7 linked regions of the Homo sapiens genome follow. The protein of the gene in region 2 purifies or fractionates together with the protein of the main gene of each other region. This does not show direct contact. Each region holds a gene or a part of one and is shown on either strand. Other genes may lie near its edges. The genes, in order: TENT4A, RMND5A, WNK1, WARS2, ADCYAP1, MYO6 and HNRNPUL2.

Region 1 (4,921 bases), on a different chromosome or scaffold from region 2:
CTTCAGAGCCCTCTCATGCCCTACACCATACTGCCTTACAGCTAGGTTCTAACGGGTTGGCAAGGGGTGGGGCCAGGAGCCAGGACCTAGGGGCATCTGAGCAGCAGAGCCCTGGAGGTGTTGCTGAGTTTTAGGCTTTAGTCTTTAATGTGGGGGATTGGAGATGGGGGAGGTGACATCACAGGGTGAAGGGGAATCTGACCAGACCTGCTGGCAGAGAAGATTGCCCCATTACCTGTGATGGGAAAGGACTCAAGCAGGACCAGAGTGCATCAAAGGCACCTCCGGCTGCTTGAGCAATCTCCACAGAAGTAACAAGAGCCTGCATGAGGGAGGATGAGGTGTGGAGAGATTAAAAGGGCCAAACGAACAGCATGTGATGAGAGACTGGACGTGGGTGACGAAGAGCGTGAGAGGGGACCTGCACAACTGAGCAGGGTACTCTTGTGCTCTAGGCAGGGGGCACTTGCAGGCAGGTTTCAGGGTGGGTCAAGATCATGAGACTGTGTCTCCCATGCCGTCCCTGCCCCAGATCCCCAGATCCTAGCACAGCACCTGATCCTAGTGGGCTCATTCACTAACAAAAGCAACACCACCTACTGAGCCTGACTAGAGTTACCTGGAGGAAACAGCTCGGGGAGCCCAAGTGAGGTGCATGGGACCTGATGCGCTACCACTTTCTAAGAGCAGAGGTACAACCCAAGACTGGCAGAGACCACGTGTCTTCCTGTTTTTTCTAGTGCTAAGAGAAACGGAGTCCATTCCAGTTACATAACAGGCTGGAAACCTAAAGGTCCTCCCCAAGCGAGCCCTTAGGTATATATTGCTATTCATCAAGAAGAAACTGCTCCCAACCACCTGCTCTCAGAAAGTTCTACAGGTAAGAACTGGAGGGAGAGAAGAGGAGTCTGCGCTCCTGCCGGCGTCTGCACTGCATGTTTACACTTCGGGAAATTTAGAAGGTATCGCTTGTAGCCCAAGCCAGGTGAAATAAGTTACAGAACATGCAGCTATTACAGTGTATCACACGCTTTAAAGAAGTATCAACTCGTGTTTCCCAACATACTTCAAATGAGAAAAAGAGTTACAAGCAAAAGTTTACTATAAGAACTCCCAACACCTAGCAATTGTGGTTATTTGTAGGACTCTACTGCATGCAACAACCCTCATACCCCAGCAAATCCTTAATTGTTTTTTAAATTGGGGGGAAAAATTGTGCAAGGAAAAATTATCATTTAAGTCTTAAAATACTGACATACAACCTACACATAAATTGCTTCCAGACGCTCAGAAAAGCCCAAAATGGCAAAGGGGCTGCGTCAACAGCATCACACCTGAACAGCCTCACCTGGGACAATTCCAACCCCGAAACACACACCACCTTTCGTTTCATTCCTTGCCGTCTGTAAGTGCACTAAATTTAAGTAGAGCCTCTAATTCCCTCTAGGCGGATGTAGAAATATTTAAAATAAAAATGGCACCTTCCAAAGAATAGACATATATGACAAATCTGGTTTTTTCTTTGAATTAAGCCAATGTTTATAAACCATAGGCGATGCTTATGGTAATTGCAGCACAAAATTAAAGGACACAACACCCCCCAAAAAATGAATCACCTCTAAGTTGACAGTTAAATTTTTTTAAAAAATGAAATTAAAAAGGTTAATATTTACCTTCGACGTGATTCGAGTTCCTGGCAATGCTAAATTATTCTGCAACTTAACTTACGTGAAACTCCACACTTATCTACGCCCCACTTTGACAAGGGGTTCCTCACTTGCCCGGAGGCGGGGTGGAGGGGTAGAGAGTCGATTTCCCGTTCCAATCTCAAGAGTAAAAAAGACAAATACCTGCAGGTCCTACCCAGCAGCCCCTTTTCTTGGACTGTTACTTGTAGGATCTGGGCAAGTCACTCCACGATAAATGAGTCTGATGTTTAAAAAAAAAACTTTCAGTGCAGAGTCGGGCCTTGGCCTTAGCCTTCAACATCCATCCTCCAAAAGCCCGGGCGCCTGGGACGGGTGTCTGCACCGCGGGCGCCGGCCAGGACCATGGGCCCCGCCCCCGCCCCCGCGGCCTCCCCGCGCACTCACCCCTGGATGCCCGGGCTGTACGCGCGGCTCTTCCACGGGGTGCCGGGCCGCGGCGCCTGGGCCCCGGGGCCGCCCCCTCCGCTGAGAGCGGCCGCGCGGCTGCCGGACAGCAGGTAGTTGAGGCCGTAGGTGCTGGCCTTGTTCTCGCGTTTCCGGCGACCCGGGTGGAACTGGTGCTGCGACGGGGAGCCGGCGGGCGCGGGGCCGCGCGGCCCGGGGTGCCCGTTGGCTGTGCCAGGGGCGCTGGGCGCGCCGTCGGCGAAGTTGAAGAAGGCGCCGCCGCGGCCGCCGCCCGGCCGGCCCAGCGAGGCGCTGCTGGAGGACGACGACGAGCAGCCGGGGCTCTCGGTGCCCGACTCCGCGTTGGACGAGGAGGACGACGACGAGGACGACAGCGACGGCGACTTGTGCAAGCGCCGCGCGCCCTCGGCCGCGGGCCCCAGCGCCGTCAGCAGCGCGGGGGGCAGCGCGGCGGGCGCGGTGGGGCCGGGCGGCGGGGGCGACGCGGCGGGCAGCGCGGGGCCCAGGCCGCCACTGCCCCGCCCGGCCGCCCCCGCCGCGGCCGCCGTGTCCAGCGCCGGCGAGTTGAGGCAGAAATAGGACGCGAAGCCCGAGCCGCCGCGGCCCACGCCCTGCGAGGTCTCCCAGATCTGCATCCACAGGGCATTGGCCGGCCCCTTCTGCTCGGGCTGGATCCAGGCCACGCGCGGATCCATCCACGCGCCGCCCCCGCGGGGCCCGCGCGCCCGCCCGCCCCGACGCGGCCCCGCCCCCGCCGCGCCCCGAGGCCCGGCCGCGCGCGCACGGACGGACGGACGGGCCTGGGCCGGTGGCGGCGGCGGCGGCGGCGGCGGCGGGCGGGCCGAGCCCCGGCCTCCTGCTCTAGCCGCGCTCCCGTCGGGCTCCGGCGTGGGGCGGCGGCGGCGGTGATGGGCCCCGGCAGGCCGCGGCGGGCGGCTCCGGCGCTTGGCGCGTCCCAGCGGGCGGCTGCGGTCTCCGGGCTCCCGCTTCACGCGGCGCGGGGCGGGCGCGGGGGCCGCGGCGGCGGCGGCGTTCCACTCGGGCCGCGGGGAGAGGCCATCGGAGAAGGGCGGGCGGCGGGGCCGAGGGGGCGGGCCCAGGCGCCGAGCGGCTGAAGGACCCGCGGGAGGCGCCGCCGCCCGTGCGGCTAGCCCTCAGTCACGCTCGCGCCGCTGGCTCGGCGCTCCTGCGGCGGCGGCGGCGGCGGCGGTGAAAAGACACTCTCGGCGGCGACAGCGCGGGGGAAGGAGGGGGCCGCCGCCGCGTCCGCTCCAATGAGGGGCGGGGGAGGGGGCGGGGACGGGGGCGGCAGGAGGAAGCGCGGCCTCGGTCGCCGGGCCGTGTCGCCGGTGCGCACGCGCGACCGATTTCAAATCCTCACTAGACACTGCCGCCGTGGTTACCGCGCCTGCGCGTTGGGGCCCCGTCGGCCGCGGGCGGGGTGAGGACGGCGTCAGAAGCTACGCGACTGGGAGGGGCTGGAGGGAGAGGCGGTGGCGTTGAGCCATTACTGACTAGGCCGGCGTTGGGTGGAATAGGCAGCGGCTGGAAGGCCCGCACGCCGCCCTCGGCCCGCCGCGGCGCGCAGACCCCGGCGTGCAGACATGCGCGCTAGGGCCGGTGTCACCGGGCTGCCGCCTGAGCCGCGCTGCGCGTGCGCAGGGCAGCGTGGCCGTCACCGCCGCCGGTGGAAGTTTCCGAGCAGCCGGGCGGGGGCAGCGGACGCCACCGCAGGCGCTTCCCCCGCCGGCCGGCCCTCCCTCCTGACGTAAGGGCGGGCCCCGGTCGCAGATCCCGCCCCAGGTCTCTCATCCGAGGGTCCGTGCAGCAGGTCACGCTGCGCTCTCTGGGGTCCGCGCGTCGGCCCACGTGCTCCCTGCACCTCGCGGGGTGAGCGGCCAGCGTGCCGTGCCGGGTGGCTGGCTCCGCCGCTCCGGAGCCGGGAAGGACACGCGGCAGAGTCCTGCTCCCTAGCGGGTCTGCTTACAGGCGTTTGGTTTGCTTTTTAAAATGATTTTCTATGCGAAAAGTGAAGTGAAAACTTCCAAGTTAATTCCCTGGGCAAAATGGGCAGTGCTAGCCGAGGAACGGCTGGTGGGCGGCGCGTCCGGCCCCCGGCTTCGGTTTTTCCAGCTGCACCGAGCGGGCAGGAGTCAGTGGGAAACCGCCCGCCATCCACAGCCTGCCGTTTGCCATCCCGGTGTCCCGAGCGCGATGGAAGCCGGGTTGACAGTGGCACTGTTTGGAATACAGCGCCAACCACACATCCTGTGAGGTCCAAAGCAAACGCCAGTGTCGTTGATCATCGCGGTGCCCCGCGAGCCTGGGCGACGTGAGGCCCCGCGGCTGCCGCCCTGTCTTCAGGCGGAGTCCCCGCAAATGCACTCCCGGGCCAGGGCCCTGAAGCTGCCTTAGCCCAGTGGCGCCCGGGCTCCAAGCCTTTTAAGTAGAACGGGACCTGGCCTTCGTACAGGCGTGTTGTAAATGCTACCCCCTCGTCTCCAGCACAGATGAGTAGACATTACTAAGCACTTGACCCTTCAAACATCGCCCCAACAGGAAAGGTCCGTGTGTTGCATACAAAGGCTTTGGGGCAAGTGGTGGTGGTTAGTAATGAAAATGAATGTTTCAGACGTTTTCAAATACCTTCATATTGTACACGTGGAAATCATGACCAAGGATTAGAACGTGCATTCAGTAAACTACAGAAAATCACACACAAGTCAAACGGCCGTTATTCTGGAGCTGTTTGCTTCCAATGGCTCAGTCCAAAATCCTTGGTCATGCCTGGCTCCTCTCTCTGTCCA
Region 2 (4,364 bases):
TAGCTTTGGAATCCTGGTATTTTAAAACCAGAAAAATTAACCATCAGTGTTACAGGGTTAGCTGGGAAGTTGACTTTTATAAAATGTACACTTTTTCCCTTAAAATTTAGTTCCACTAACCCATTTAATTCTTCATAGCTTAGTTTTTTCTTTCTAATCATTTCTCAGTTCTTTCTCCTTTTTGAGACAGGGTCTCACTGTCACCCAGGCTAGAGTGCAGTGGCATAATCATGGCTCACTCCAGCCCCAACCCCCCAACCTCCCGCCTTAGCCTCCTGAGTAGTTGGGACTACAGGACTGTGCCGTTATGCCCAGCTAATTAAAAAAAATTTTTTTTTGTAGAGACAGGATCTCACTATGTTACCCAGGCTGGTTTCGAACTCCTGAGCTCAAGTGATTCTCCCACCTCGGCTTCCCAAAGTGCTGGAATTACAGACTTGAGCCTCTGTACTTGGCCATTTCTCAGTTCTGAGAAAATTTTGTGTAGTTCTAAAACCAGCCCAGATGACTAGACAGAAATTCCTGTATAAATTTATATAAAATTCTTGTATAAATTATAATAGATCTCACTTAAGAACTGTATCTCTGTGTAAGATGCATATTACCTTTGTAGAATTTGTTTAAGCAAATTTCAGATTGTGACACATCTGGGAGATAAATTCAACCAAATACCTCTAACACCTCTTAAACAAAATATGGCAACAACTACTTTTTTTTTTTTTTTTCCCAAAGAGACAGAGTCTTGCTCTGTGGCCCAGGCTAGAGTGCAGTGGGATGATCATAGCTCACTGCACACTCTCAAACTCCTGGGCTTAAGTAATCCTCCTGCCCCGGCCTCCTGAGTAGCTAAGACTACAGGTGCACACCACCACACCTGGCTAATTTTTAAATATTTTATAGAGACAGGATTTCTCTATGTCGCTCAGGCTGGTCTCAAACTTCTGGCCTCAAGTGATCCTCCTGGAGCGTCAGCTGCCCGAAGTACTGGGATTATAGGCATGGGCCAATGTGCCCGAGAAAGCCTACATACATATATGAACATGTAATGGGTTTCCCAGTTGTTTTATAGTGATTAGCAAATAATATTTGGGTTGTTATTCAAGGTAATATTCACTTATCTATGCGTTTCTTAGGTTTTTTCATTAAACTTTGTTCATATGTGCTAGTCATGTACGTACTATGACTATATCTGTAGTCACTGGCACATAGTATTTGCTACCTTAGCCTTCAGAGTACTCCAGACTTTTCTCCTAAGAGCCTTTTAAACTTTGTGCGTATATAAGATATGTTTCTTATTGATAAGCATGTTATGTATATTGATTATTTCTGTAAATTTTGTCTATTATTTGTTGCCTTAAAACAATTCCTCTCAGGCAGAGAGAGGACTTGTTCCATAAGTAAAAATTTTCTCATTTCATGTTTCTGGGAGTAGTGTTTAATATCAGCATGAGGGAATGTAGTGGTAATCATAGTTAACTCTGCTTGAGTGGTTATTGTATGCCTAGCATCGTTCTAAGCATTTTACGTGTCTTAACCTATTCAACCCTCATATTAACCTATGAGGTAAGTCATCTTACAGAGAAGCAATTAGGGCCTAGAAGATCCTCTGTGAAAAAAAGTCAAAAGATTATATGAGAAATGCTTTACATAATAGTCCCCCAGTATTCTCATTTGAGGTTCATTTTAACTTATTAAGTGTATCATCAAGCCAGGTGCAGTGGCTCACACCTGTAAGCCCAGCACTTTGGGAAGCTGAGGTGGGCAGATCGCTTGAGCCCAGGAGTTCGAGACCAGCCTGGGCAACATAGCAAAACCCTATCTCTACAAAAAAATAGAAAAATTAGCTGGGTATGGTGGTGTACGCCTGTAGTCTGAACTACTCAGGAGGCTGAAATGGGAGGATCACTTGAGCCCAGGAGGCGGAGTCTGCAGTGAACCAAGACCACACCACCACTCCAGAGCCGAATCCTGTCTCAAAAAATAAGAAAATAAATAGAAGTAAAAACGTACCATCAGTAATCCTACAGTAAAGAAACTCATTTAACTTGGTATAACCCAGTGTTTTCTCTGTGTATTTGACCAATCTTGTTTTCCCTCCAGATAACACATTTAAAACCCATAAAATTGGAGTTATACAAAACATAAGATTTAATAGAAATCGTCATTACAACAATTCAGATTTTTCCAATTCTTGCCTATTGTGGGTGCAGAGCAGATACTGACTAAGCATCTTTCATGAGCTAGGTACAGAAAATTCCCTTTACTCAACTTACAGCAAAAGTTGAATGATATGGGACTCCAATTTGGGGAATTCTAGTTAAGGTACAAGGCGGGAGATATCTGCCAGTTATGCAGCATCCCATTTGTTCCTGCTGGGAAGGATATCATGGAGCTCACAAGGGAAAAGAGGAAGGAGAGGATGCAGCAATTCCTCCAGACTGCCTATGCGGTGAGAAGGCAGAGGCCAGCCAAAAATTTGAGGTGGCTAGGCCGGGCACGGTGGCTCATGCCTGTAATCCCAGCACTTTGGGAGGCCAAGGCGGGCGAATCATCTGAGGTCAGGAGTTCAAGACGAGCCTGACCAACGTGGAGAAACCCCATCTCTATTAAAAATACAAAATTAGCCAGGTATGGTGGCGCATGCCTGTAATCCCAGCTACTCAGGAAGGCTGAGGCAGGAGAATCGCTTGAACCCGGGAGGCGGAGGTTGCGGTGAGCCAAGATCGCGCCACTGCACTCCAGCCTGGGCAACAAGAGTGAAACTCAGTCTCAAAAAAAAAAAAAAAAAAAAAAAAAAAAAAAAAGTGGAGGTGGCTAAAGGCCATTGAGGGCCTAGGGGAATGGTGATATTGTGGAGAGAAGTGGCAGAACAACACCTGATTACATAGATCTAATCAGGACCTTGCCTGCTCCTGTGTTCCGTGCCCTTGTACCTCTGAGTTTGTACAGATTTTCCCCCTCATCCAGATTTCTTTTATGCTCACCCAGATTGTTTTATTTGCTTTTTGAATTTCTCTTGGCGCCTAGAGTAGTGCTTACCTCATAGTAGGCCCTCAATGAATAACAGTAATCTGCAGGAGAATTTAGAGCAAACTTGTCATCCTCTTCCATGGTGGCAGATAGAAAGCCAAAAATAGTGTTAACGAGAGAATAGTAACTTAATACAACGAGGTGGGGGAAATATTAGAAAAAATAGGAACTGTCCTTGTAGCTATGCCATTATTAACATACATATTGAAAGAAAGCACTATCTTTAGGGGAAGCTACTTGGTTGCCTTCCTAAACGTGTCTCAAAGAGTAATACTACCTTGCTGGATTTGCCACAGTCTAGTATCTGACTTTCAGCTTTGCAGACTTGGAAACTTGTTTTTGGTGTCCTTATTTTGTTTTGTTTTCACTAAGAACAGGCCTTTAAAAACGATAAAAACCTGAATTGCTAAGCTGCGTACATAGTTTGGATTATTAGGGGCTGTGAAACAAGCTTGTGGTAGGCAGGTCCATGTGGAAGGCACATGAGCTTGCAAAGCCTGGAGTTGGAACAAGAGGAGATTGTTCTAGAAAATGTTCAAAGTTCTCAGGCTAAAATGTCCTGATGCCATTATGTCCACCATGGAGGTTGTGTTGCAGAGCCGTTGGGCAGTTCAGACTTCATTCACTGACTCCTTTTCTCAAAATTGTCCTTGGCTTGCCTTGGTCGAGTTTTGAGTCAGCATTAAGTATCCCAATAGGTAATAAATAAGAGTACAAAATCAAAAGGCACAACAAGATAAAAATACAGTGAAAAGTAAATCTCCCCACCTTTGCCTTCTAATCACAGTTACTCTCCAAACAGGCAGCCACCATTAACTGTATTATGTATACGTACATTTTTATGCACAAGTGGTTGCATACTATACACAGTGTTCTGCTTTTTACTTGAAAAATTTTGAAGTATTTGCCTATATCAGAGCATATAGAACTATTTTTTTTTTTTGGTGGCTGCTTAGTGTTCTCTTTTAGGGATTATACCTTAATTTTATTTAGCCAGTTCCTATGGATGGACGTTTGTAGTTTCCGATATTTTGCTTTATAAGTGATGCAGCATTGAATATCCGTTGCACATTATTTTGAGCATGCCTGCTAGATATGTTGTCCAATATGGTGACCACTCCTATGTGTAGCTCTTACTAATCTCTGCATTACTGAGAACCTCATGTAAAAGGGTGTGTGTGTGTGTCTTAAATAGAGTCAGATATGCAATACCATAGTTTGTGTGGTTTCTTAAATAGCATGTGAAAAGGACAGAGACTCACACCAACTCTGAGATGAGTTTAATGGTAGTAGTTCCAGCAGTGGACTCAGCCCATAGCTGAAAAATTACCATT
Region 3 (4,364 bases), on a different chromosome or scaffold from region 2:
CTTTTTTATATAGACAGAATCTCCATATGTTGCTTAGTCATGAACTGCTGGGCTCAGGCAATCCTGCCATGTCAGCCTCCCAAAGTGCTGGGATTACAGGTGTGAGCCACCATGCTCAGCCTAGCCATTCTTTAAATAGAGAGAGGTAATAAGAGAAGTAGCATGCTGTGTTCAGAAAAGTTTTTCACCTGGACCCATAAACATGAATTTGCAAACATAAACTTGGGAGGGGTTAACCTCTCCCAATTTCCCATGAGTAAAGAACAAGATTATTCATGAGGAAAGGACTGTATGGTGTGCCTGAATCTTTCAACTTCAGGAAGACATGGTTTTCCTGAAGATGACCTCAGTTTCAATTGGCTCAAGGATTCCCACCGCTTCTCCCCACTCTTCCCAGAACAGCAAGCACTCCCATGTAGAAGCGACAAGAAAATGCAGCTGAGGCAGGGTGCAAAGGGGAGGAGGAAGCTTTGCGGTTATGATGAAGGAACTCTATTTCTGCGGTTTGATGAGAGAGGAGGGAGTCTATGCCTGCCTGATTTCGGCTCTGCTGGAGGGCACACTGAAGATTATTCCAAGAGGCACGTTTTGGGGAAGAGGGAAAGAAGAGTCATGGTCTTGTCTGTTTTCCTTACCCCCCACTGTCTTACCAGATCTCACGTGTTACAGAATAAATAAAAGCTCCTAAAGTAAGTTGTGAACCACTAGTCCTTAAGGTACCCAAGTAATGCGGGGGTAAGTAAGTGCATGCGTTATCCTGCTTTCAAGGTCAAAGCAGCACCAGATCACAGCAGCACACCTAACGCAATCCTGCCACTTCAAAGCCTGTTACTGACCATCGCTGGTCTCAAGTCAAGCTTATATCCTACCACCTGGGGAATGGCACACACAAGCAGGTCTGTGCTGCAGTAACAGCTAATTCTGAGGTGAAGCTGCAGTGAGGAAGGTCACATGCTTCTTACCGCTATGGCAAGACACGGAACTACTGCAGTGTGAGTGTCAGCTCATTTCTTGGTGTCTGCTGGAGCCACAAGGGGATTGCTATTGCACATACAGTGTGAAGGGAAGAGTAAGCTCCCTACAGTACAGGAAACGCGAGGGGAGAAGCATGAGAGCACAGAAAACAGCCTTCCATGAACAGCCAATGTGAGAGAGTGGTGAAGTGGGAAGCACAGGCAATGAGGATGGGCAGTCATGACAGTGAGTGACTCAATCTAGAAAGCAAGCATATCACATGCATGGGGATTGTCATCCTGTTTGAACAATTATTGCTTGGTGAGCTTGATGTGAGAGACAATCAAAACAAAAAACAGAAATAATCACAGGGGAGCAGAGCTGTCAAAAGCTAAATACAAGAAGCTCAGGAGGCGTGACCATTGCTTATCCACAGAGCTCATGCTGGGAGACACACCTCTCTAGTCTGTCGCCCCTGATGCTGCGAGGCCCCTTTAGAACGAAATTTCACTTTTCATTTTACCCTACATTACCTAATACAGGATTCTCTATGAGGAAAGAGAAACCATGAGGAAGAGTCAACCATACAGCTAAACCTTCACGTTCTGGCTTCTGTATACAGGCCTCCCATTAAAGAATGAAACAAACCTATCATTTTCTGACCAGAAATTAACTCCTAAGAAAAGGAGACTTGACTATAAAAGATGTAGAAAGGCCTTTGAGAGAATATGCTAACTTCTTAACCTTTTTTAGTTCTTCTGAAAAGCCCTAATAAGTAGTATAGACTTACCCCCAAGATTCATTTTTAAATTTCCTCCTGCCATTATAATACATTTCCCCTATTCCCACATCACCAGATCCTACTAACAATAACCTATTATGAACCATAACTTACAGCCCAACATCCCAAGTACAGAATTTCCCTGTTGACCCTACCTACAACACTGTAAGTGGCCTTCTCATTAAAGTATGAGAAGCCACAGTCTAAGAAGACAAACTCTAGAAAGTGGTGTTTTTCTCCTCGTCAATCTAGCACACATCTCCCACTTCAGTGTGAACGTGGGAGGGCATGGACTTTTGTATGCTTTCGTCACTGCTGAGTTTCCAGTTGGGGTAATAACACTGCCCGGCACATATTTGCTGACCAAAGGATCGCTCTCCCATAGGAACTAGGCATCCCTGACCTCCCTATATATACCCATGGCCATTACCAATCCATGTCTGTCACAAGCTAGGCTCACATGGGGTTATCACTGAGGGCACCGACTAGGAGATGATTTCTCAATTAAGCATGTTAAATATTTATTAGAATAGGATACAGAGATAGATGGAAGTTAGGAATCAGGGAGCTATGAGACTGCAGAGTTGAAAGAACTCATGGTTAACAGGCTTTGCAATCAAGGACCAAAAATAACAGAAAAGATAATTACTACAGAGCTGGTTGCAAGGACAGACTTTTTTCACCATCTTCCCTGAAGCACAAAGAGAGAAGCAATGTGTTAAAGATAAAGAAACATCAGTGTAAAATATTTAGAATCTCCAAACAGCACACAAACGCCCAGCAAGAGAAAGCAGGAGGTGAGACAGATAGGTAGGACCTGGTAGCCCTTGAACAGATATAGTTCTACAGAATGTTTCGAACTGGCTGTTAGCCTTAACATGATTATCTGATGGGCTGTGTTACGTGGCTGACAGATGTGGAGTTTCTACACCCAATCTTTGTATCTAAAAGAGTAATGCCCTGCACTGAGGTTCTGGAATTGGCGAGGAACTCCAGTCTCTCAGGTCTCACTGCTTGAATTTCAAATACCCAAGCAGCGTTTCCACTGATCCTGTCCCACTTCCTGTTTCTCCAGCTGGGCTGTTAAAAAGCACTCAGTTAAATGCATTAGCAACCCCACCACAGTAGACTGATAGTATCACTGTTACAGCTTTAAGTTCATTTAAATTGGCTATTATATTTCCACATCCCACATATATATACTAACCCCTTCCCTTCCAGAATAGTTTTTAAAAGTACGTGGAAAACAAGCAACCTCTGAACATAAATATAGCAGTAAGCCAAGCCGTGCTTCCAAACCATTATCTATTTTGAGAGCATAGAATAATACATCTCAAGCTAGTAAGGTGCCCTACTCTTTCAAGTACCTGTTTCCTTTCCATATTTCAAGTATGTCTCTTGGGATTTGTTTACCAGGCTTACATGATGTATCCTGATGTGACTTCTAAGGATGTAGGGCCTTTCATTTTGCACCCAAAGGGAAGTGACAAGATTCAATATTTCTGACCACTTTCATTTGAACAACAGGGGTAATACCACCTACCTTTAAAAGTGGGATGAGAATTTATGGAATTTAATTAAAGTGGTATTTGTCACATTATATTTCAGAAACAGAAGCTTTGGTTCTCTTTCTTCCCTCTCAGACACTTCAGGCTGTAGACCATAGGCCTGACATGTCACATTCTACTTCAAAAACACCCCCCTTGCAACTTTCTAGGTGGACATGCAAATTAAATGCTTATTCAACTGTCAAAGTGCTAATATGCACAGTCCAGGAAAGTCTGACCAGAAAAATTATTGATCTGAGTCCTCAAAAAAAAAATCACACAAGCCTGGAAAACGATCGAATTGGGTAATGCCTTCCACCCGCTTCTTTGTTAAACAGCCTGGGACTAGTGCATGTGGGGAAAGTCAGTAAAGACTGCCTCTCAAGTACAGCTAACTCATTACTAATACAGGTACAAATAATAGGGGTGCTGGAAGGAGCCAATCCATTTCTAATGCAGGTAAAAATAACAGGGGTATGTGTGAGGGAAATGGCAGTTAAACGTGTCATATGCTTCGCTTTAAATCTAGTCACTACAGAGAACAAAGGGAGGTTGTAAATTCTTCCCACCGTGAAGAGGCCCAAGGGCCTCTGACCCATACTCAGAAACAGTGATGGCCTGAGCACATGCATGTAAAAAGCACTTCAATAATCACATCAGAAGTTTGAGGCCTTAACAGAGAAGATCTTTATTCAAATTATAACAAAGGTTTTTCTACTTGAACTATGTTTTTGTTTGTTTTAAACTGTTCTTCCACGAACAGTTATTGACTACCTGTTCTGTGCCAGGTAGGCACTGACTCATCAGAGAGAAACCATGAGTGCTTTTCAAGCGCTACCTGTTTCTCTGTACATGATCTTAGCTTGATTTGTACGATGGCCCTAGGACACTGGCATCATCTCCATTTCACATATGGGGAAGATGGGGTGACTTGCTATTGTGCCTTGTTTTTAAGTAGAAAGCTGCAAAATCCCAGAAATCATGTTAGAAGGAGAATTTTCACTTGCAGATGCTGGGCTTTGATCTTTATTAGACTAAGTGCTTTATCAGAATAACCAAACTAAAAACCGCTTTTGATTTTA
Region 4 (4,364 bases), on a different chromosome or scaffold from region 2:
TGGCTCTAATGATGAACAGCTCTCCAACATTGGCAATGGATGTGAAGCTCCAGGCACATTCTTTTCAGAAAGAAGGTGAGAGTGCTTTTGAGATAGGATGACCAAGAAGGCGAGAGACCCAGGGACAGCTAGTTTGTAGAAGGCAAGACCTATACAGTAAGGACCTACGGGGTAAGATACAAATGGTACATAATAAATGTCTTTCCAAGTATTTGAAGAGCAGTTGTGTGGAAACAGAGTTGATTTATTGTTTTTTACAGAGCAGAAATTAAATGAATGAATGGAAACTATATGGAGGTAGATATTTGGTCAGTAAAAGCAAGTATTTTATAGTAACTGGATCTGTCCAACGCTGAATTTGAAAAGTCATGTGTAAGCAAAGCCTTCCTGACCAACTATAAGGAATGAAGTTGAGGTAAATTGACTTTATGGTCCTTTTAAAGATCAGATTCTATTATTTTATCAAATTATCTACAAGCTGGCAACAAAGTTGATAACTGCATTTATTTTTTAAACATACAGTTGGCCCTCTGAATTTGTGTGTTCTGCATCCATGGACTCAACCAAACAGCAGATTGAAAATATTAGGAAAAAACAACTAATAAAAATAACACCGCCACTATATATACACTATGGAATACTACACAGTCATAACAAGGAATGAAATCATGTCTTTTGCAGCAACATGGAGGCCAACATGAAATACAGGCCATTACCCTAAGTGAAATCATTCAGAAACAGAAAATCAAATATTGCATGTTCTCACTTATAAGTGGGAACTAAACAATAGGTACACATGGACATATAGAGAGAAATGGCAGACACTAGAGACTCCAAAAGCCAGGAAGAGGATGTTGGTTGAAAAATCACCTATTGAGTACAATGTTCACTATTTGGGTGACAGGTACACTAAAAGCTCAGACTTCACCACTACACAACATATCCATGTGACAAAACTGCACATACACCTTCCTAATCTCTAAAAATTTAAAAAATTAGTGTATATATATACATATATATGAAATCAGTGTGTATTTAGGCATCAAAAAATAACAATACCACGATAGAAAAATAATACAAATTAAAAAACAATACAGTATAACAACTATTTGCATAGCATTTATATTGTATTAGGTTATTATAAGTAATGTAGAGATGGTTTAAAGTATACGAGAGAGTATGTGTAGGTTATATGCAAATATGATTCCATTTTATATAAGGAACTTGAGCATCTGCAGATTTTGGTAGCTTTGGTGGTCCTGGAGCCAACACTCTTTGGATGCCAAGGGATCATTATACTCTTTTCGTTTATCACATATTTTTTAACTGTCTGCTCTGTAAGAATCATTACATTAAGTTTTATGTATAACAAAACATATATAAAAATAATGATAGAAATGTACAATCAAGGAAGGTTGCATATATACATGCATGTTAACATGTACCATAGCATGTATAACATACCATTCCTTGGCTGGGCTTTGTCCTAAGGTTAAAGCAGATACATAATGAAGGCATGATCTAGTTAGAATTTTCATCTTTTTCTAGGGTGTATCTTGATTGCCTTGTCTCTAGGCCAGACTATCGGCCTGTCCAAGAATAAACTGATTCATCCATAGTGAAGATATGAGTCAAATATTTTGGCTTTACTATGAAGCCTTTCTTGGCTTAGACACAACACACTGGGACTTTGTCTTCCAATTTCCCAACTTGTGCTATCAAATCTTCTCAAAAACTATTATAAAAAGAATGAACAATGGGAATCATCCAACAGACCTTCTAAATAGAACATCTAATAAAGCAACATTGGAATTACATAAAACTATTGGTCACTAACTTCTATCCTTGATCACAAGGAGATTAGTCAACAACACAAAGTAATCAGTTTGAAAGCAACCCAGCATAGCAAAACAATTCCAGGGCTAGAAGTACTAATGAAACACAATTCTTGGTATATGAAGCATCATAAACTTACCGAATACAGTGGAGGAAAAGCTGAAAAATACTCTTGCAATATAATGATACTTAATGATATAAATACAAGTAAAACATTAAGCTGAAAAAAATCACATTTGAAAAAGTCACCTTCAAACACTTTTTAAAAATCACGAGCAGGGGCTGTATGAACCATTCAACATTTTTTCCTCAAATAATCTACACATAAGAGTTTTCTCAGTTCTAATCTGAGAAGCTGACCTGAGATTGTTGGAAAAGGATGCTTTTTTCCGGGTTTATGCCACAGGCAAGAAGAACAGCAGTCATGTCCAGGATGCTCTGCCGAAGGACAGCTGGGTCTTGGGGGACAGTAATGGAGTGGAGGTCAACAATGCTGTATAATACAGAGTCATATTCATCCTGTAACCTCACCCAGCTCTCAATGGCTCCCAGGTAATTGCCCAGGTGGAGGATTCCTGTAGGTTGAATGCCGGAAAATACTCGCTTCTTGCTGTCTTTCTGGAACAAAGGAAAACAAGCATATTTGCTTTTGAGGCAGAATCCCATGAATCCTATGCCCATGTTATCATAGCTATGGGAGCTAGTTATATTTTTGTAAACTACAATCTGACAGTCATCATCATCCATTTATTTTGTGCCTACACTGTAAATCACTATGCTAGGTGCTACTAGGCACAAAAAAATGATATTAAAAATGTTTTTGCACTCAAACATGGACAAATGCAAAGACATATAAGAAAAGATCTGCAGCCGGGCGTGGTGGCTCGTGCCTGTAATCCCGACACTTTGGGAGGCTGAAGAGGGTGGATCACCTGAGATCAGGAGTTTGGGACCAGCCTGGCCAACATGGTGAAACCCCGTCTCTACTAAAAATACAAAAATCACCTGGGCGTGGTGGTACACCTTTAATGCCAGCTACTCCGGAGGCTGAGGTGGGAGAATTGCTTGAACCTGGGAGGTGGAGGCTGCAGTGAGCCAAGATTGCACCACTGCACTCTAGCCTAGGCAACAGAGCGAGACCCCGTCTCAAAAAAAAAAAGGAAAAGATCTGCATCCCCAAGAGCATGTGATCTAATTGGAGATAGAGGGTATTGTTTATGAAAAGATAAGTAAAGGTATAACATGGTAACATGATCATGACCAGTTTGGAATGATACAGAATAGGGTTCAGAGAGGAATTCCCAAGAGGAAAAGATAACTGAGGTTTGGTGGTCAACGAGGAAGCCTTCAGACATAGAATGAAATTTCACTGGAGATTAAAGGGGCCTCAAGGGTTTTTCATGTCATTTAATTTATTTTGCAGTTAAGGAAATGAAGGCCTTAGCATTAGTGCTAAAGGCTACTACTATTGCCTTAAGATTTTTTTATATTGTTGATATTATAATTTGGTGTATGAGATCTTGGGCTAGAAATTAGAAAACATACACTCTATTTCTAATATTACTTCTTAATAAGGTTATTTACATTTTCTATGCCTTGGTTTCCTTTTACTTTTAATAAAATCATATTTGGGTTTTCAATTCTTCAAAAGGAAATTTTAATTCTACATAATTATTTAAATTATAAAAAGCATTTTTACTCTGGTCATATTTTCCCTTTGGTTTGTACTTTCTAATACTGAAGTCATAATAGGAAAATGAAAAGAAAAAAAATGCAATACAAAGTAAAAAAAATTGCTATTTTTCCCCTGAATTATTTTATAATACATTCCATAGTGAAAAACCAAAAATGAGTATGTATCAATAAATATACTGTAACTAAAAGGCCCTGAGAAAATATAATGCATCATTATCATTTTTAACCACCACCACAGCAAAACAATAGCAGCAATAATTTACTGAACAACTATGTTGCAAGCATTTATGCCCAGTGCTTTACATATATTAATGCATTTAATCATTTTAATACCTAATATGGTAGGCATATTATTACCTCCAGTTTATAGATGAGAGACGTGAGGCTCACAGATTTAACTAGATTGCCCATGGTCACACAGCTAGTAAGTGGTGGAGTTGAGGTTTCAGGCCAGATATCACTGACTTCAAAGCCCATGTATGCTCTCTCTACTAGCTACTATGCTTTGCTTAGCTACCATCTATTAAGACTTTATTATATTCATTGTATTAATTTTGCAACTTTTCAGTCAGTTTAAAAATTTGCAAAATAAAAAATTACAGGGACAAAAAAGACCATTATTATACAGGTATCTTAATGTATTATGAGCCAAGTTTCTCTAGTGTATATATCTAGGAGTAGAATTGCCGAGTCATAAGGTATGTATACGTATCTTCAATTGTAGTACTTCAATATAGTGAACTATTCCTAAGTATGTAACATTATACACTTTCTACCAAGTTCCTGTTGTTCCATATCCTCATCAACACTTGGTATTAGCAGTCTTTTTATTT
Region 5 (3,265 bases), on a different chromosome or scaffold from region 2:
TTTGAAGGAATTTCGTATGAAAGCTTTGCCCTAAAGTTTGTAAATATGAACTAAGAAAGCATACAATCCACAAATGACTTCTTGTGTTTCTTCCTGGACTTCAAAGTACATTTTCTTTTAAAGGCATCTAATTAACTCTTTACTTACTCATGTTCACGTTCCTTCTACCTAAAGCATTTTAATCAGAGACAGTAGTTTGTATGTCTCTAAACACATTTTAAAACCTCCAAAAACTGATTATTTAGATCATTTTATACAAAATTTTATCAAGACAAGTTTAGTCTGCAGAGTTACTTGTATAAGAACAATGTTAGATCCCTATTTTAGGCTGGGTGTGGTGGCTCACGCCTGTAATCCCAGCACTTTGGGAGGCTGAGGTGGGAGGATCGCTTGAGCAAGACCAGCCTGGGCAACATAGTGAGACCTGGCCACTAAAATAAAAAATAAAAGAACAATGTTAGATTGCTATTTTAGATGTGTAACTAATGCTCCAGCATTGTCTCCCACTACTACCTAGTAACTTTCTGAATATTGAGCAAAGTATATACACACTAGGGGATGGAAATTAATCTAAATTGTGTGTCTTATAATGTTGCAACATCATGCCTGTTTATGAGCTTAAAACCTTCTTAGGCATCTCCATCTGAGTAGCTACTTTAAATTTTTAGCAGAATCCAGTTGCCCATCAATTATTAAAGTGCAGTTCATGAAAATACAAGGGTGCTTAGATAGATATATATTCCAGACGTAAAAAAATCTTATGGTTGCTAAAGAAATATAATACTTTAAGAGATTTTAAAGTAATTATTTCCTGAATGTCTTTTTTCCCAAACATTAGACCAAGTTGCATTGTTTACAAAAATTTATTCATACAAATTTTACACACTTTATATAACAGTTATCAAAGTCCTAGTTATAGATATCATGTGTGTAATAATACTTGGTTAAGGTGTTTTTATAATCAGTTGCACACAAAATAAGAGCTTCAAGACTAACATCTACCTAAATTATCACTATATCATAAATCTGCTTCAGTTTAGTAAGGCTCTTGGCATTTCTAAAAAGTATACAAAAGATTAAACTGGGTGATCACTGTAAAATGCTTGCAACTAGCCACGGGAACACTAAATTAGACTTCATAAATAAAAGGTTAACTAGAGCCCTATTTCACCACTAACAGCTGATACAAATACAGAAAACTCTGCCCATTATCCAAGAAACAAATAATTAAGACTAAAATGCAAGCTGATGTGTTGCAGCATTGTAGGGCCACTAAATAGCCATCTGTGATTCGTGGCAATTTAAAAGGCGAAGAAAGGCACTAAAGCTGCAAACTGCATCCCGTGTCACATTGCCTGAGGAGACTGCGGAATTAAAGGAAGATTGATCCTATACACAGGACTCAGGCATAGACCGAATGCCTCTGTTTTCACTATTTGCAATGTGATCTCCTGGCAGCATCCATCCCGCCTGGGAATGCAAATCCAATTCTGTTTTCTTTGATTTATGACTTCATACTGATCAAATCCGTAAAGGAAAAGGAAAGGTCCTTTAAACTTTACAAGCTAACGTTTAATCTTTCCTTGTTCTTTTTTTTTTCTTCTTCTTCATCTTCTTTTTTCAAAACATAAAAAAATAAATAAATAAACTTGTGCCTGAAATTTGGGAGATTGGCTGGCTGGTTTGTCTGTTGCTGCTCGATCTGATTGCTGGGTGAAGGTTCTTTTGTTTATAAAGATTACTCTGTATGTTCAAAGAATTGACAGGAAACAGACATGCTTTCTTTAGCCAAAGAAAGGATACAAGCGTAGGTTCTCAGGGTCTGTTGGAGCTTGCTTACCTCACTCTTGACCACAGATATAAGATAGTACTCATACATATGAAGAAGAGGATTAAATGATTTATCAGTTAGCAAAACTGAGCAACATGTGAACACTACACATTCTAATATGACAAAGGTTGGTTTTATGAAATAAATTTTACTAAGCAATAAGCAATAATGTAGAAAAATACATTTTACCTACAAACTCAATAAACAAGAAACAAAGGGTTCATATTTAGTGCATAATTACTTACTAGTGGCTACAGAGGGGTTTCTAAAATTTACAATAAGTGCCTGCATCAAACAAAAAAAAAAAGTGAGAAGCATTCACAAGTTTAAGAGAAGTGAATGAAAAATGGTAAACAGTACTTAAACAGTGCAGGAGGGTAGGAAGGAGAGGTCTCCATAAAACCACAAAGGAAAAGGGTAGCTCCTACAGAGCAGGTTTCAAAGGAGAGGATCCTGGCCATTTCACAAGATGAGAAGCATGGACAGCACTGGAGAAAAACACATTGTACTTTGCATCCATTTCCAATACCCAGCGCCCAAAGTCAGGACCATTGGGACTGGATTTGCCCTCAGCTTCCCAGACCTGGGGCAATCTCAAACCAGTCCATTTCCAGGGTCCTCCTCCTACCACCTCAGGCTCTGCCTCTTCCAATATACCTCTATGTCCTTCACTTTGTTCCAATTGCCCTAATTTGGGGATATTAGATTCCCTGGCCACTCAGGAAGTACAGAAAAGAGAGCGGTCTAACGAAGCCGCCCTTTTCTGTACAGTTCCTCAACTCTTCTCCTAGGGAGAGGCGTGAATTCTGGGGAGAAGCACAATTTGGATCGAGCTGTTGTTTTATCAGGAGAATTTTCTTCTGGGCTGAGAGTCTGAAGAGAGACAACTACACATAAAAGGAGAATCAAAGAAAGCAGAAATATTGGAATTGCCACCCAACCAGGGGGACAGAGCCCAGTTGAGTTAGGCTGGGATTGAAGCAGCCTGCCCCAGAGACTCACTGGGAAAGAATGCCCTTCAGCAATTCTCCATATCTTTACCTCAAAATCTCCCTGGAGCAGGGCATCATTGTTTATGTACAGTAGCAAATGGTAAGTAGTAATATCTTCAGGCCTGTCATGGATAAAAATACTATCCTTTTAATTCCAGTTTACAAAAATAGGAGTAATATTCAAAACAATGATTGTCTACTTTTCTATTTATTTTTATAAAAACATAAACAGCTCGGGCGAATTTTCAATCCTTGTGCACGCTTTGTATGAACTTCTCTCTATACTTTATATATATATATATATATATATATATATATATTCTTTATATATATTTATAATATATATCAATAATTGGTCCACAAAGTATATCTGTGCATTCTCTAGTGCTTTGTAGAAAGAAAAACAATATTATTATCAAAATATTCATTTAATGGCTTTACT
Region 6 (3,500 bases), on a different chromosome or scaffold from region 2:
GGCATCCCATTAACACTAACACCTAGAGAGCAGATGTCAGGAATTTAAAGTTTTGGTTATGCTTAGGATATATTATGAAAGCCATGACAAACAGAAATTCAAATACATGAGCAATTTATTCTCAACATGGGACTTTTTAAAAACTAGGGGTGGAGAGAGACTCTTAATCCTAATTTATTAATTCCAGTATCTACAAAGTTATATGATATTTTAAAACTTAACATTTTAAGTGAATTTTCATTTGACTTTCCCCTAGGTATAAAAACAATTATTAATATTTATTGATCTACACAGTGTTCACAATGCTTTAACATGTATTAACTGTCAAATGCTTGCAACTATTATTTATCCACATTCTACAGAGAGACAACTGTGACCCATAGTTCCTCACTATAATGTGTACAATGTCACAATTTCTGTCAGTGACTGATCTTGGATTTGAACCCACTTCCCTAGCTCCAAAGTCCATTCCCATAACCACTTCAAAAACTGGCCTTTGGTCTCTAGGATAAACTAGTGACAGCTTATCTAGCAAATCAAGATCTCATTTTCACTTCTTTCATAGGTTCCATTTTATTTTATTTATTTTTTATTTTTTATTTTTTTTGAGATGGAGTCTCGCTCTGTTGCCCAGGCTGGAGTGCAGTGGTGTCATCTTGGCTCACTGCAAGCTCTGCCTCCTGGGTTCACATCATTCTCCTGCCTCAACCTCCCAATTAGCTGGGGCTACAGGTGCCCACCACCATGTCCGGCTAATTTGTTTTCGTATAAGTAGAGATGGGGTTTCACCATGTTAGCCAGGATGGTCTTGATCTCCTGACCTCGTGATCCGCCCGCCTCGGCCTCCCAAAGAGCTGGGATTACAGGCATGAGCCACCACACCCAGCCTGTAGGTTCCATTTTAATAGAAATTCAACCCAGTAAGTACATACTTGAATGCGTTTTTCATCATCTTCCCTTTTCTTTCTCTCTTCTTCTTCTTGTTTTCTCTTTGCTTCCATCTCAAGTTTCCTAATAAAAAATAGAAAACTCTTCAAAAATTTAACAGAAAATAAAGAATCCTTCAGAAGGCAATTTAACTATTATTTAATAATAAACAAAGGTAACAGATTGGGAATGCAAATTAACCTCCTGGCCACATACATCAACTTATTTTGAATAAAATAAAATTTAACTCTATTGACAATAATTCTTAAATAAAACAAATATAATTATATTCTATAACTTTTAACATCTCTAGATGAATGTGGTTACAAAGCCTGGCTGTAAGGTCCTGATTAAAGGTGCTTCCCTCTAGTCCCTCTCCAAGTCAACAACTCATCTGTTCTCTCTACCCTATCATGGCAATCTTTCAAAATGTTATCAGTTTTAAAACTGCAGAAAAGTAGAAGTGTCATTTATCTAGCTTAGAAAACAATAAACAAATCATAGTTTTAAAAAGAAGAAAATCCTCAGGTGTAAGAGGCTAACAAATTCAGATTATAGTTAAAATTATTTTATGGTATCACTATTATAAAATGACCTTATTCTCTCAATTTTCAAACTTATTACAAAATTAGTTCATTAAAATAAGAACACAGTTTTAAGAATTGTCAACCGAGCACGGTGGCTCACGCCTGTAATCCAAGCGCTTTGGGAGGCCGAGGCGGGTGGATCCCCTGTGGTCAGGAGTTTGAGACCAGCCTGGCCAACATAGTGAAACCCCGTCTCCACTACAAATACAAAAATTAGCCAGGCGTGGTGGTGCGCACCTGTAATCCCAGCTACTCAGGAGGCTGAGGCAGGAAAATCGATTGAACCCGAGAGGCAGAGTGCAGTAAGCCAAGATCGCGCCACTGCACTCCAGCCTGGGCAACAGAGCAAGACCCTGTCACAAAAACAAAACAAAACAAATAATTGTCATTAACCACTGTCAATACCAAGAATTCACTATTTCTTTAAGTCTCTTATTCAAAATAATATAAATGCCTCACATCCGCCTTTCCTCCTCTTCCTTTCTTCGACGTTTTTCGTCTTCTTCACGTCTTTTTCTTTCCTTTTCCATTTCTTCTTGAATACGCCTCAGCCTTTCTGCTTCCTCTTCCTGCTGTTTTTTTTTCTGTAATGCACTGAGGAGTTCCTCTGAGCTTTTAACCAGTGCATCATATTCTTTCTGGATTTGTTCCTGCGTCATCATAGTGGACTTTAAAAAATAAAATAAATAGGTACGTAAAAGCTTATTTCTTCTGTTGCACAACAATGTGAATATACTTAACAATACTGAATTATAAACTGAAAAATGGCTAAGATAAATTTTAATGTTTTTATTGTTTTTTACAATTTAAAATAAAAAACTACTCCAATATGCAAATACAGCAAAAACTAGGTAAGATGGTAAGCAATACGTCCGTTATCTTTACTATACTGTTTGTACATTAAATACTATTCAAAAAATGTTTTATGTTATCTCTGCACACAAGTATTACACATCAATTAGACAGGTAATCTGTGGATAAGGTAATATACTGCAGTTAAAAATTATTTCTAGGCCGGGTGCAGTGGCTCACACCTATAATCCCAGCCCTTTGGGAGGCCAAGGTGGACAGATCACCTGAGGTCAGGAGTTCGAGACCAGCCTGGCCAACATAGTGAAACCCTGTCTCTTATAAAAATAAAATACAAAAATTAGCTGGGCATGGTGGTACACACCTGTAGTCCCAGCTACTCGGGAGGCTGAGGCAGGAGAATTGCTTGAACCCGGGAGGCGGAGGTTACAGTGAACCGAGATCATGCCACTGCACTCCAGACTGGGCAACAGAGCAAGCCTCTTATCTCAAAAAGAATTATTTCTTAAGTAATGATCAGCTAATTTAGCAATAGTTTACTACTATTTTAGAATAATGTTCAAATAGTACCTAGAGAATATTTTAAAAATTACAAAATATATCCAAAATTATTGGATTTCTAAAATTAGCCTTCAAAAAATGTGGGTGGGTTAATTTTAATTTATAATGATACCACATAAACAAAGATGGCCCTTGACAGATTTATAAAATCAGCTGAGTCTATTTATAGCATTTTCATTTTCCTCCAGATCTTTTTTTTCCTTTCTACCTCCAAGATTGCCATTGTTTACATAAAATATCTGCAGAAAATATAAAACGCTCACTTTAAGATATTCATTATATCCCACATACTTGCACTGACCTATGAAACTGAGAAAAAGCATTAAAACTCTAAAATATAATGAGAAGATATGAAATGTAATTAATGAAATATGAAATATAATTAACAAGCATATAGAAAAGTCTTCAACTCCACTAGTAATCAAATAAATAAAAATCAAAACAAAATAAGGGATCCCATTTTTTTCCTACAAAATTGGAGAGGAAATTGCTATTTTCACAAAATTAATTACATTATCGTATCTATGAAGATAATGTATTAACATGGACAAGTATATAACAATGGTAGAGATAGAAATTGAAATGTATATTATGATAAGAACTGTAAAAATGTAT
Region 7 (4,364 bases), on a different chromosome or scaffold from region 2:
ACCTCATCTATACTAAAATACAAAAATTAACTCGGCATGATGGTGGGTGCTGTAATCCCAGCTATTTGGGAGGCTGAGACGGAAGAATCGCTTGAACCCAGGAGATGGTGGTTGCAGTGGGCTGAGATCACGCCACTGTACTCCAGCCTGGGTGGCGGCTGAGCAAGATTCCATCTCAAAAAAAAAAAAAAAAAAAAAAAAAAAAGGCCGGGCGTGACAGCTCACGCCTATAATCCTGTTATCCCAGCACTTTGGGAGGCTGAGGCAGGTAGATCATGAGGTCAGGAGATCAAGAGCATCCTGGCTAACACGATGAAACCCTGTCTCTACTAAAAATACAAAAAATTAGCCAGGCATGGTGGCGGGCACCTGTAGTCCCAGCTACTCGGGAGGCTGAGGCAGGAAAATAGCATGAACCTACGAGGCTGAGCTTGCAGTGAGCCGAGATAGCGCCACTGCACTCCAGCCTGGGCGACAGAGCGAGACTCGGTCTCAAAAAAAAAAAAAAAAAAAAAAAAGACTCAGTATCTTTGACAACTTAGACACGAGATAAAGGGTCAATACACATGATCTTCTTTAACTTTTCAAACTACATGACAGGTATTATCCTGTTTTGCTCATCAGGGAAACTGAGGTTCAGAAAGGATAAGGGACTTATCCAAGATCACAAACCAGAATGTGGTGGAGCCAGGAATTCAAATGAGTTCCAACTCTTTCCATTGTCTTTATTACATGTTTTATAGCCTGGGTCCATATATTTTCAAGTAAAAACACTAATTAGGGGTACCTCTGAGTTCAAAAAACATTGCAACCATAACACACAACCAGATGGTCATAATTAGGTAAGCTGACTCTGCTCCTTAATTCAGTCTCTCTTTATATACACATCCCACCTTGACTCTAGGCAATTTTATCAGATTAATACCTGATCAAGAATAAAGTTCCTCTTTGTCCGGGAAGCAATCTGGACCAGCTTACTAAGGCACTGGGAGGCTTGCTGAACTAAAAGGTCTCGGCTTTTGGGGTCCATCTCTGGCTCCTCGAGACCCTTCATCTGATTAGTTTGAGAGGAAGTGAAAAAAAAAAACAAAACACAAGTTATATTGCAAGTTAAAGCCCAAGAGTTATTGGTAAATGTCACCTCTTCAAATACTGAATCTATGATATCACTCTATTCCCATTCTTCAGTGCTGTGAATGTTGTCCATTTCCTGCAGTAGTCATTTCTATCTAGTCTTAACCTGGATGTATTTCAGATCTCATCTGCTTTCAGAAATTTGACAACACAGCAAAGAAAAAAAAAATCAATCCACCTAAAACGCATAGAGAAAAATCTCATTTCTCTATTTCTGGGACCCTTGTTCTCAGACACTTGAGACTAATTCTCCATTAAAGATAGGTTATAAGAGTCTCCAAATACTGTATCCGACAAATCCCCAACAGCAACTTACCCTCATTTGATTGAGCACAGTCTCAGCTCCCAGGACATTGTATCTTTTCTCAGGGTTTTCTTTTGCATATTTCAGTGCCCACTGGGTCTTTCCAGATCCGGGTAGTCCCACCATCAGAATCACCTGCAAAAAACAGAACCAGAAATATAATGAAAAATAAATGAGGGTCATGTTTATCAAAACCAATTTAAGAACATCCTCCCATTCCTGTTTGGTAACGCTCTGAGACCCTGGAGAGCATACGCACCCACCTCTGCAAAGCATACAACCTCAGTGTTCGTATACTGTTTGGCATACCTCACATTCCTCTATGGTCTTGGGAGGGACTGCAGTGCGTACACGCTCCTCAACAGGCACAGCATGAATGAACACAAACTCTTCTGGTGGTGGGAAGAAGGGCTCCTCCTTCTGACCGAAGTTTAATTCTACAACACAATTTTTGCAGAGGACATGGGGTAGAAGGGCCCGGTCTGCCAGGGAATCCTTGCTGATCCAGAATGCCACACCTAGGTCTTCTCCATTCTTGGAGAAGGAAAGTTCTACTTCTTCAGTCTCAAAATTCTACAATGACAAGGGACAAGAGCACTTATTGGCTGACGAGGCTTTGGGTTGATTAAACTTTACAATTTATTCTTTTTTCACACAGACTGCTGCACAAAGTAACTAAGCGAGCCACACACATCACATGCATAAAAGCCAGCAGTTGATGGGAAGCACAAGTGAATTCCCAGTGCCCTCTATCCGCTCCTTGTTATAACCCACAACTTTCAGGAGCACTTACAGCAAAGCAGCCAATAACATCATTCTCCCCAAAAGTCTGGCCAAATTCCTCAAATTGTCCATTTTCTGCCTTGAGTCCTCGTCCATCGAAACCGTAAGAGAATTCATCTTCACCTAGAACAGTCAACAAATTAGTTACCTACAACCGGACTTCCCATAGAGTAAGCAATATGGTAGTAAACACTAATGAGGAACTTAAAGAAATAACTTTACCAAGCTGTGGACGGGAAAAATCAACAGACCACCCAACTCGAAGGAGAGAGACCTCTGTGCAGCCTTCTTTCATTGGGAGATTCTGGGTTACCTGGCCAAGTCAGAAAGGGAACTATTAGATATTGTGACCAACTGAGTAGCAAACTCTGAGTTCGAAGGACAAGATTTTTATACAAACTGAAAACGACATTTACCTCAACTCAACATCAGAATAACAATCACTGAACTTAAAGCCACAGGGATCAATTTCTTGGTTACTGAAACTAAGGTTCTTGTTAAAGCACAGTGCTTTTACCTACCTGCACTAATAAAAGCCTGATTGGACAGAAGTCCAGTATACATAGGTAGTAGCTTAATGAATAAATGAACGGTCTTTTTAAAAAAATATTTCTTCCCCAGCCAGGTGCGGTAGCTCATGCCTGTAATCCCAGCACTTTGGGAGGCCAAGACGGGCGGATCACCTGAGGTCGGGAGTTCAAGACCAGCCCGACCAACATGGAGAAACCCCATCTCTACTAAGAATACAAAATTAGCCAGGTGTGGTGGCGCATGCCTGTAATCCCAGCTCCTCGGGAGGCTGAGGCAGGAGAATCGCTTCAACCCAGGAGGCAGAGGCTGTGGTGAGCCGAGATGGTGCCACTGGACTCCAGCCTGGGTAACAAGAGCGAAACTCCATCTCAAAAAAAAAGAGATAATAATCTTCTTTTCCCCCTCTAAGAACCGTAAGCATCCAGTAATAAATGAATGAATGAATGAATGGTCTTAATGAGCTACCTTTGCCTCAAAGCAGACTTTTCCCTTTGTCACTCCGTAAGTACTCCTTGCCCCAGACCAAAGGGTGGGGAACTTCTCTGAGAAAAGTGGCTGCCCTCCATAGCGGTCTTTGCTCACTTGAAAATGCAGATCCGAGGTATCTGTAAAGAAAGAAGCAATCAGTTTACTCCAATGTCCAATACTTGTAAGCCGCCAACAGAGCATAAGTATACCAGTTGTTGTAGTGGATACAAAGTCTCATAGAATTTATAGGCTATGAAGTTTTAATCTCCAAAATCACTTTTAGGAGATTAGTTAAAAACCACAGTCTGTCTGCCTTATACATACACGTGTCCAGGTTCACAAGAGTTTGATCCTCCTCCTCATCTTTTGCCTCTTCTTCAGGAGGCAGTGGAGACTTTGAGCTATATATGTAAGATAGAAAAGAAACACAATGTAAACAAAGCCCTCTTCTTTGAGGGGTGTGTGTGTATGACATTATGTCCATTTTAAACTGTCAGTGAATATCAAATCCCAGCAGACAGCTTTTTCCAATAAATGAGAAAGGGCAATAGGAGTTTCCATGGTAGATGCAATCTAAAACTCATGCCTATAAAAACCTATTCCATTTTGAATCCACCCTCCTTCCAGTCTCTCCAGTCAATACCAGGTATACCAAAATCAGAGCAGACACTCCCTTCAACGAAAGGGACTGTTTCCCTCACCGGCTGTGGTAAGCCTCCTCTCGGAATTCATAGTAAGCTCGGCCATGTTCATCCTTCTCATCCCGCTGTCTCTTTACCCCCCGCCGCTCACCATCTGAGCCTGCTGGTTTTGACTTTTCACTATCCTGGTCATCTCCTACAAAAACGAGGGAAAGAAAATCAGCAGTTTTCATACTGGAGTGTAGAATAAGCTCACAACTAATAGACACTAACAGGGAATCTGAGAATCTGTCTGATCAAAACAGCCAGGTTATTCCCACTACATTCACATAACATTTTATTTCTAAAGATCAGCTTTCTGTCATTGGCTGTGATTTAATTTTTTTAAAAAGGGGCATTATGGGCTAATTACAGTCAAGCACTAGATAAAAATTGGACAATTTTTGCATTCTAAATTTATCCACTTAAATCAGGTCAAACTTGCAGATTTCCCCATCAATATG

What was found.
Region 1: the proteins of RMND5A (region 2) and TENT4A purify together in Homo sapiens (affinity purification with mass spectrometry; 3 studies listed by BioGRID and IntAct, with this or other methods). This does not show direct contact.
Region 3: the proteins of RMND5A (region 2) and WNK1 purify together in Homo sapiens (affinity purification with western blotting; 2 studies listed by BioGRID, with this or other methods). This does not show direct contact.
Region 4: the proteins of RMND5A (region 2) and WARS2 purify together in Homo sapiens (affinity purification with mass spectrometry; 3 studies listed by BioGRID and IntAct, with this or other methods). This does not show direct contact.
Region 5: the proteins of RMND5A (region 2) and ADCYAP1 purify together in Homo sapiens (co-immunoprecipitation; one large-scale study listed by IntAct). This does not show direct contact.
Region 6: the proteins of RMND5A (region 2) and MYO6 purify together in Homo sapiens (affinity purification with mass spectrometry, with the first as the bait; one large-scale study listed by BioGRID). This does not show direct contact.
Region 7: the proteins of RMND5A (region 2) and HNRNPUL2 purify together in Homo sapiens (affinity purification with mass spectrometry, with the first as the bait; one large-scale study listed by BioGRID). This does not show direct contact.

Annotation. Positions count from the first base shown.
Region 1 is NC_000005.10:6,711,872-6,716,792, reverse strand, and holds the start of TENT4A (terminal nucleotidyltransferase 4A), read right to left. Parts: upstream 3,362-4,921; 5' UTR 2,810-3,361; coding exon 2,094-2,809; intron 2,045-2,093; exon of another isoform or gene 1,674-2,044; intron 1,652-1,673; exon of another isoform or gene 1-1,651. UniProt on the Homo sapiens protein: Terminal nucleotidyltransferase that catalyzes preferentially the transfer of ATP and GTP on RNA 3' poly(A) tail creating a heterogeneous 3' poly(A) tail leading to mRNAs stabilization by protecting mRNAs from active deadenylation.
Region 2 is NC_000002.12:86,754,404-86,758,767, forward strand, and holds part of RMND5A (E3 ubiquitin-protein transferase RMND5A), read left to right. Parts: intron 1-4,364.
Region 3 is NC_000012.12:902,515-906,878, reverse strand, and holds part of WNK1 (serine/threonine-protein kinase WNK1), read right to left. Parts: intron 1-4,364. UniProt on the Homo sapiens protein: Serine/threonine-protein kinase component of the WNK1-SPAK/OSR1 kinase cascade, which acts as a key regulator of blood pressure and regulatory volume increase by promoting ion influx.
Region 4 is NC_000001.11:119,074,154-119,078,517, forward strand, and holds part of WARS2 (tryptophan--tRNA ligase, mitochondrial isoform 1 precursor), read right to left. Parts: intron 2,455-4,364; coding exon 2,197-2,454; intron 1-2,196. UniProt on the Homo sapiens protein: Catalyzes the attachment of tryptophan to tRNA(Trp) in a two-step reaction: tryptophan is first activated by ATP to form Trp-AMP and then transferred to the acceptor end of tRNA(Trp).
Region 5 is NC_000018.10:909,752-913,016, reverse strand, and holds the end of ADCYAP1 (pituitary adenylate cyclase-activating polypeptide preproprotein), read right to left. Parts: 3' UTR 845-3,265; downstream 1-844. UniProt on the Homo sapiens protein: PACAP is a neuropeptide involved in diverse array of physiological processes through activating the PACAP subfamily of class B1 G protein-coupled receptors: VIP receptor 1 (VIPR1), VIP receptor 2 (VIPR2), and PACAP type I receptor (ADCYAP1R1).
Region 6 is NC_000006.12:75,888,739-75,892,238, reverse strand, and holds part of MYO6 (unconventional myosin-VI), read right to left. Parts: intron 2,183-3,500; coding exon 1,974-2,182; intron 1,012-1,973; coding exon 933-1,011; intron 1-932. UniProt on the Homo sapiens protein: Myosins are actin-based motor molecules with ATPase activity. Unconventional myosins serve in intracellular movements. Myosin 6 is a reverse-direction motor protein that moves towards the minus-end of actin filaments.
Region 7 is NC_000011.10:62,720,370-62,724,733, forward strand, and holds part of HNRNPUL2 (heterogeneous nuclear ribonucleoprotein U-like protein 2), read right to left. Parts: intron 4,058-4,364; coding exon 3,922-4,057; intron 3,622-3,921; coding exon 3,545-3,621; intron 3,358-3,544; coding exon 3,218-3,357; intron 2,535-3,217; coding exon 2,444-2,534; intron 2,345-2,443; coding exon 2,232-2,344; intron 2,012-2,231; coding exon 1,748-2,011; intron 1,574-1,747; coding exon 1,451-1,573; intron 1,055-1,450; coding exon 926-1,054; intron 1-925.